2 linked regions of the Homo sapiens genome follow. The protein of the gene in region 2 interacts with the protein of the main gene of each other region in a pairwise test. Each region holds a gene or a part of one and is shown on either strand. Other genes may lie near its edges. The genes, in order: SYNJ1 and SORBS1.

The links.
Region 1: the proteins of SORBS1 (region 2) and SYNJ1 interact in a two-hybrid assay, tested with the Homo sapiens proteins (one large-scale study listed by BioGRID and IntAct).

Annotation. Positions count from the first base shown.
Region 1 is NC_000021.9:32,644,469-32,648,285, reverse strand, and holds part of SYNJ1 (synaptojanin-1), read left to right. Parts: intron 1-1,683; coding exon 1,684-1,893; intron 1,894-2,496; coding exon 2,497-2,640; intron 2,641-3,279; coding exon 3,280-3,318; intron 3,319-3,817. UniProt on the Homo sapiens protein: Phosphatase that acts on various phosphoinositides, including phosphatidylinositol 4-phosphate, phosphatidylinositol (4,5)-bisphosphate and phosphatidylinositol (3,4,5)-trisphosphate. Has a role in clathrin-mediated endocytosis.
Region 2 is NC_000010.11:95,551,169-95,554,985, forward strand, and holds part of SORBS1 (sorbin and SH3 domain-containing protein 1), read right to left. Parts: intron 1-3,817. UniProt on the Homo sapiens protein: Plays a role in tyrosine phosphorylation of CBL by linking CBL to the insulin receptor. Required for insulin-stimulated glucose transport. Involved in formation of actin stress fibers and focal adhesions.

The sequences.
Region 1 (3,817 bases), on a different chromosome or scaffold from region 2:
GGGGGGAAAGAGAAGAGGGCAATTGCTCTAGGAAGATTGGAGGTCCTAGGGTGGTGGTTTTGGATGGGACAGGCTTGAGAATGCACAGTGCTAATGGAAAAGTAGAGGAGAAAGGGCTGATGGTTTGGGGGAAGGGCAAGGCAGAATAGTAGAGCAGTGTCACTGAGAAAATTAGGCTGGGTGGGGCCCATTTGTTCCATCCTCAGATACCCAAGTGACAACCATGTAATGAGACTCCAGCTTGGGGGCAGGCTGTTGAAGTAGGGGTTCCCATCTTAAGACTTCCCTCTTCTCTGTGAAGTGTTGAAGTGATCTGCAGGAGTGGGACAGCTCACAGTTTCAGGAGGGTTAAGGAGTTTTGCAGTAAAGCTCCTGAAGAGCAAAGGGTGAGGGGAAGAGCAAACCAGCAAATCATGGAATTGCCAGGCACTTTAGGCCAGAAGAGACTGAAAAGCATAATTTCAAATGTGACTGCAGTTGTCAGGACTGGGTGGTTTTCTTTAGCAGAGGCAGTCAGCAATCCAAGTGTTATCACAGAAAGATTAAACAGGGGAATCAGTGCAGGGATGGGGTTATGTCAAGCACGTGCAATGGAAGAAGAGTGAAGTAGGGTAATGTTTGAGATGAAGAACCATAGAATCTGAAGGTAGGTACAGAAGAAAGCAGAATCAGATGGAGGTAAAAGTTAGAGGGATCAAACCCTGGCTTCTGAAGAAATCAAAAGAGAAGGAGTAGCCAAGGGAGAGAACTGAAAAGCTGGGAGGCCAAAGTCAGAGTGAAGCTTTTGAGTTTATTATTTCAGAAGAGTGCAGTTCTGAGGGGTGAGGGTTAGGAGTGAAGGCGAATGTCCATAAGGATAGGACCAAGGCATTTTGCTATTGAACGAGTTGTCCACATGGACTTTGATGCCACGCAGAAAGATGGTGCGGGACCTGACTTACAGTCTTGCTCTCTGCTTAGTCCTCAGTGAGTGGGTTCAGGAAATGGAAGAATGGACGTTGGAGATGACTGTAGCAAGTGGGGGTAGAGGATGTTACATAAATTCCTGATGGCATAGCCTCAGAGCAGTAGGACTTTTTGTTCAGGGTTGGAAGACTAATGTTCTGGAATGGCAGTTAGGTTGCAAGGGTTACCTTGTGCCCACTTTCCTACCCAGAAGTAAGTGGAGATGAGGAGACCCTGGGGGAGAACCAGTGTTTACTTAATTAAAGCAAAGCGGGTCTTTGTGGGGTGAGGGTTGCAGGGAGGAGCCTTCTGGGGGAAGACTGTGTGGCTCCTGAGAGCTTGTTGACTCTGAGGCTGGACCTGGGTTAGGCAAGGGAGTGGGGCAGTTCCACAGAGCACAGTGGACAGGTTTGGAAGGAGAGCAGGAAACTTGAGTTGGCTTGCACTGGAGAAGCTGCTCTGGGGCATATTGAAAGCCCATTGGGTCACCCCAGCTCCAAGTGGTTGGTCACCTGACATCTTATTGCTCAGAGACAATAGATACCTTTACATCTTCTGAAACAAGCATTTCTACTAATTGTGGTTTTATACATGCCTTCATGCTTAATCCATGTGTGTTTGCAATGACATAATGTTCATATTTGTTTTGTGTATTTTAACTTTTTAAAACCTAAGGTGAAAAAAATCTCTGAGCAAGTTAAAATGGAGTTATCTCTGATCAAGCCTGCTTTTCCTTAGGTGATGTTGATGACTATAGTGCTGAAGTGGAGGAACTTCTTCCTCAGCATCTCCAGCCATCTTCAAGTTCCGGCCTTGGTACTTCCCCCAGCTCTTCACCCCGAACTAGTCCCTGCCAGTCACCTACAATATCAGAGGGTCCTGTACCTTCCCTTCCCATCAGACCAAGCCGAGCACCGTCAAGAACTCCTGGGCCTCCCAGTGCACAGAGTATGCATTTTATTTGAAAGTTTTGTATGGCTTCCTGTGGCCAATGTGCTTGATGTTGGAGAGTCATCGTTTAAGTTTCATACCTAGGTGATAAAGTGCACCCTGTTTTCTCCGGTACAGAATAGGAAAACTTGTAGATGATAAGCTCTCAATGGAAAGGAAACTTGCTATAACTGTCACTAGATGACAATTGTTCTTAATCTTTTTTCTATGTGGTTAGGTTTGTCTATGTCTTATAACTGATGATTTTCTATGGTATGAACCCGTTAACTATTTGAGCTTTTTCTTCTCTCTACTGGCCAGACTACAAAATGGCTTAACTCAAACAATACTTTGTGCATATCAATAGGGCCACTTAGTAAATTAGCTTTCAGCACCTGAGGCCTAGGTAAGAAGTCAGCACAGAGGTAGCATTATTGCTGCCATGGTACCAAAGGGCAGTTTAATAGTAGACTGCTTTTGTTATTCATACTGAAAATACATGCCCTTTCTTTACACCATTGTGCACATTTTATAGAACATTACACATATATATGAAGGACTGTTCCCTTCTGTCAACAGCTACTTAGAAGCTGATCTTCTTACCTCCTGTGCGCTTTTTAGGTTCTCCTATTGACGCGCAGCCAGCAACGCCGCTGCCGCAGAAAGACCCCGCCCAGCCCTTGGAGCCCAAGCGGCCGCCGCCGCCCCGCCCGGTCGCCCCTCCCACACGCCCGGCTCCCCCACAGAGACCTCCTCCGCCTTCAGGTGACAACCTTTTATTTCCATTTCTGCTAGATGTAAAATTCTTCACTCTATTTTAAAATGTTTTGCATGTTTTCCAATCTCTAGCTTCTGGATTTTACAGTTTTTTCTATCATTATTGCTATTTCTTAGCTTTTCTCTAAAGAACATGGTAGGCGCAACAGACAAGGTAGAGTGTTTGCAGAGTAGATTCCTCTAAGGTGTTTTCACAGCTGCCTTTAGCTGCCTTCTCACCAGCCAGCCAGAGAGGTTTATTTTGTTTTTGCTAATTTGATCTAGTTAGGCATGTAAACTGTTCTTAGGTAAAATTAGGTTTAATTTTTTTCAAAATCCTCATTTCTGGATGATTTATAAGCATAAAATAATTAAAATGTACTAATTTCTGTAAAAGTATAATAAAACTGGAGAGCATACGTATTAATGTACAATTGTATGTATTTGTTTAATGTTCTTTTAAATTAAATATAGTGCTGTTACTTCAATTATAAGCATATGCATTGAATAATAGTTTTTGTAGTACGTAGATAATATGTAATTCCTGCATGATACTTGATGTCATGGATACTATAGCAATCTTTGACATTTCACTTCTGTATTTAATGTCATTTCCTTTCTGCTGCCTATTTTCTTATGAACTATAAGGGGCTAGGAGTCCTGCACCCACTAGAAAGGAATTTGGAGGTAACCATTTACATTTGTTAGCATGTGTGAATCGTGGTTCATTAATGTTTTACACCTGAAAGACATTTTAGATTTGTTTGATAAAAGTCAAAATGAATGACATTCTAGTTTAAAACTAATCCACAAATAAAACTAATAAAGGCTTTCATTTCCCAGGTAGGCTGGGATTGTTCATCAGGCCTAATTTTTTTTTTAATAAATGTGGTCGATTCATTTACAAAGATTTAATACCCAAAAGTTATATTAATTTTAAAAGTCATTCAGGTACAGTAAATACAGAACATTTCCCAAGTATCTGATTAGTGATACATTTATTTTCTAGTGGAAAAGCTTTTGGATTAGCAAAGAACTGTATGATTTTCTTTTCCTTTCTTCATAAGGAAATTTTTATTCACAAAGGGTCACTTTTTGTTTGAAGTATAGTTTATTTGGTTTACATGAAAACTCACAGAGCTCAGTTGGAGTTATACATTTGACAAGTTTATTTAATCTAAATCTC
Region 2 (3,817 bases):
ATACAGCCAAGGGAGGGACACAGCTGAGGGAGGTAGAGAGATGGGAGAGAGGGATGGCAGGTGGGGGCAACTTTCAAAAGACCCAGGGATTGAGTGAAAGTCTGCATATCAAACAGACTAATACCTAGCCCCTTTCCCCATGGAGGCTCCCAGAATGCAGGAAGGCCAGGCTGTTTACCACCCCACCCCACCCTACCCCACACCCAGGTAAAATCCTCTCCAAGAAAGCCCTATCCAGGAAAGCCCCAGGAAAAAGATCTACCGGCGCTGATATCTAGGCTGCTCCAGTAGAGAAAAAGGGGGCTCTCTGCTGGGTCACTCTACAATGAAGTTAACGACTCCCTTCCTTGTGGCACTGATGCCCAATCAGCATTTCGGTGTCCATTCTTAAAATATACATAGACAGTCAAGGATCAGCATGCATGGAAGGATAGCTGCAATGGAAGATACAGTAACCAAAACAAATGGAAAAAGGGACTTGGAAGAAACAACATCTTCCAAGGGACAGCAGGGAACAGCAGAAAACCATAAAAAAAACAAAAACAAACAAACAAAACCCTTAATATAAAGGAATTTACTGTACCCATGAAACAAGAATAGAATGTCATCTAAAAAAGAAAAGCAAGTATTCAGAGAACTAGGGAGCTCTTACAAAGTAAAACATGCAAATATGTTCCACGTAAACACATGAAAGCACAGTTAAAAATGGAAAAGAGTTGAAGATAAAGCTGAAGATAGCTCTCTGAAAGACAAAAATATAATAAAATGAAAAAAGGAAATAAAATGTTTTAAAATTATAAACTTGCTCCAGGAAGTCCAACATTCAGCTAATAGGCATGCCAAAGACAAAACACAGAAAATGGAGAAAATGAAATTATTAAAATATATCTAATTAAGAAAATTTCCCCAAACTGAAAGACGTCAATCTTCAGATCAAAAAGGCACACACCGGCTGGACGCAGTGGCTCACACCCGTAATCCCAGCATTTTGGGAGCCCGTGGCGGGTGGATCACCTGAGGTCTGGAATTTGAGACCAGCCTGGCCAACGTGGTGAAACCCCCATCTCTACTAACAATGCAAAAATTAGCTGGGCGTGGTGGCATGCGCCTGTAATCCCAGATACTTGGGAGGCTAAGGCACGAGAATCGCTTGAACCCGGGAGGCGGAGGTTGCAGTGAGCCGAGATTGCACCACTGCACTCCAGCCTGGGCAACAGAGTGAGACTCCATCTCAAAAAAAAAAAAAAAAAAGGCCCACACCAAAGACCCAGGCCAATCATTTTTAAAGCAAGGAGATTTCAAATACAGGAAAAGAGAGAAGATCCCAAAAACTTTCAGTGAGAAATCAGGTTATCCATAAATGATCAAGAATCAGAATGGTATCCGAATTTTGATACCAATATTAGAACCTAGATGACAGTGGAATGATGGCTTCAAAATTCTAAGGGAAATGGCTTTCGACTTCAAATTCTAGATGAATCAAATCACCAATCGAATATGAATGTAGAATATGAACATTTTCAGACCTGTAAGCTTAAAGTGATCAACTTCCACAGACCCTCTCTCAGAAACTTGTGGAAGAATAAATCAACAAAGGAAACAGGATCCCACCCAGGATAAGGTGAGGGAATTCCCAGGATGAGTCATGCCACAGGCCTAGAGGTCAATGGGCAAGAACAAAGGAGACAGAATGGAGGCCTATAGGAGGGAAGTCTCCAAGCGGGCGTAAAAAAAAAAAAACAGTAATAAAATAAAAAGGAACAAGCGCAGGCACGGTGGCTCATGCCTGTAATCCTAGCACTTTGAGAAGTTGAGGAGGGAGGATTGTTTGAGGGCAGGAGTTAGAGACCAGCCTAGGCAATGTAGTGAAACCCCATCTCTACCAAAAAACTTTAAAAATTAGCTGGACATGGTGGTGCCTGTAGTCCTAGCTACTCAGGAGGCTGAGGCAGGAGGATCACTTGAGCCCAGGAGGTCAAGGCTGCAATGAGCTACAATCGCACCTCTGCACTCTAGCCTGGTGGACAGAGCAAGGCCCTATCTCAATAAATAAATAAATAAATAGGAACACATGTTATAAAACAAATGTCTTAAGATGCTGTCAAATACTTTGAGAATTAGCAATAAGTACATAGAAACTAAGTAAATAGAAAATGTAAGATAATTATTAACTCAAAAAATGTACAAGAAAGAAAATATTATAGTATACTATATGGCTCTGTCATGAACACTATTTACACAGCCAAAATAATGTAAGCACCAAATATCAATGTAATCAAAAACTGTGATATATCTATAATGAGAGGATAGGGAGAAAGGGAAGTATTGGGGGGCAGAGGAGAGGATCTAATCCATAGTAAGACATCAAGACATAACATCTAAAAGTAACCTCTAAGCTGGGCATGGTGACTCACACCTGTAATCCCAGAACTTTAGGAGGCCCAGGTAGGAGGAGTGCTTCAGGCCAGGAGTTAAAGTCCACCCTGGCCTCAAGCAGGGTCTCAACATAGCAAGACCCTGTCTCTACAAAAAGAAAAATAAGGAAAAATAAAAATAACATCTAAAATGGACAATCAGAAAACAGCATTGTAAGCAGGTAACAATAAATATGATAGTAATATCAGGAGAAACAGCTCAGTGCATTAGAAGTAACTGTTGTAAACAGAGTAACAGCAGCCCCTCAAGGATGTCTATATCCTAACTGCCATGCCTGGCTAATTCTTTGTATTTTTTGCAGAGATAAGGTTTTACTATGTTGGCCAGGCTGATCTTGAACTCCTGGCCTTAAGTGATCCGCCGGCCTCAGCCTCCCAAACTGCTACGATTACAGGAATGAGCCACTGCGCCCAGGCAGCCTTTATATTTTTCTAGTAGTATTGACTTTTTTTTTTTTTTTTTTTTGAGAGGGAGTCTGGCTCTGTTGCCCAGGCTGGAGTGCAGTGGCACAATCTCAGCTCGCTGCAACTTCCGCCTCCCTGGTTCAAGTGATTCTCCTGCCTCAGCCTCCAGATTAACTGGGATTACAGGCGCCCGCCACCGTGACTGGCTAATTTTTGTATTTTTTTAGTAGAGATGGGATTTTGCCATGTTGGCCAGGCTGGTCTCAAACTCCTGACCTCAGGTGATCCGCCCACCTCAGCCTCCCAAAGTGCTGGGATTACAGGCGTGAGCCACCACACCCAGCCTATTTGTCTTTCAAAACTCTGTGCGGGGTGGGGGTGCACAGTGGCTCAGGCCTGTAATCCCAGCACTTAGGGAGGCCAAGACAGGCAGATCACTTGAGGTCAGGAGTTCGAGACCAGCCTGGCCAACACTGTGAAACCCTGTCTCTACTAATAATAAAAAAATTAGCTGGGGGGGTGGTGGTCTCCTGTAGTCCCAGATACTAGGGAGGCTGAGGCAGGAGAATCGCTTGAACCCGGGAGGTAGAGGTTGCAGTGAGCTGAGATCATGCCACTGCACTCCAGCCTAAGCAACAGAGGGAGACTCTGTCTCAAAACAAACAAAAAAGAAACTCTCTGTGTACACACACACACACACACACACACACGCGAAAGTTTTATACAAATTAAAATTTAATTTAAAAAGAGAAGAAACACAGACTCACTCTATTCCCAGAACTCACAATATGGGGGAGGAAACAGACAAGGGAACCAGCAATATCAACAGAAGTAGAAAGCTGAACACAAGAAGAAAGGCATCTCTTTTTTTGTTTGTTTTTTTTTTTTTTGAGATGGAGTTTCGCTCTTGTTACCCAGGCTGGAGTGCAATGGCGTGATCTCGGCTCACTGCAACCTCTACCTTCCGGGTTCAAGTG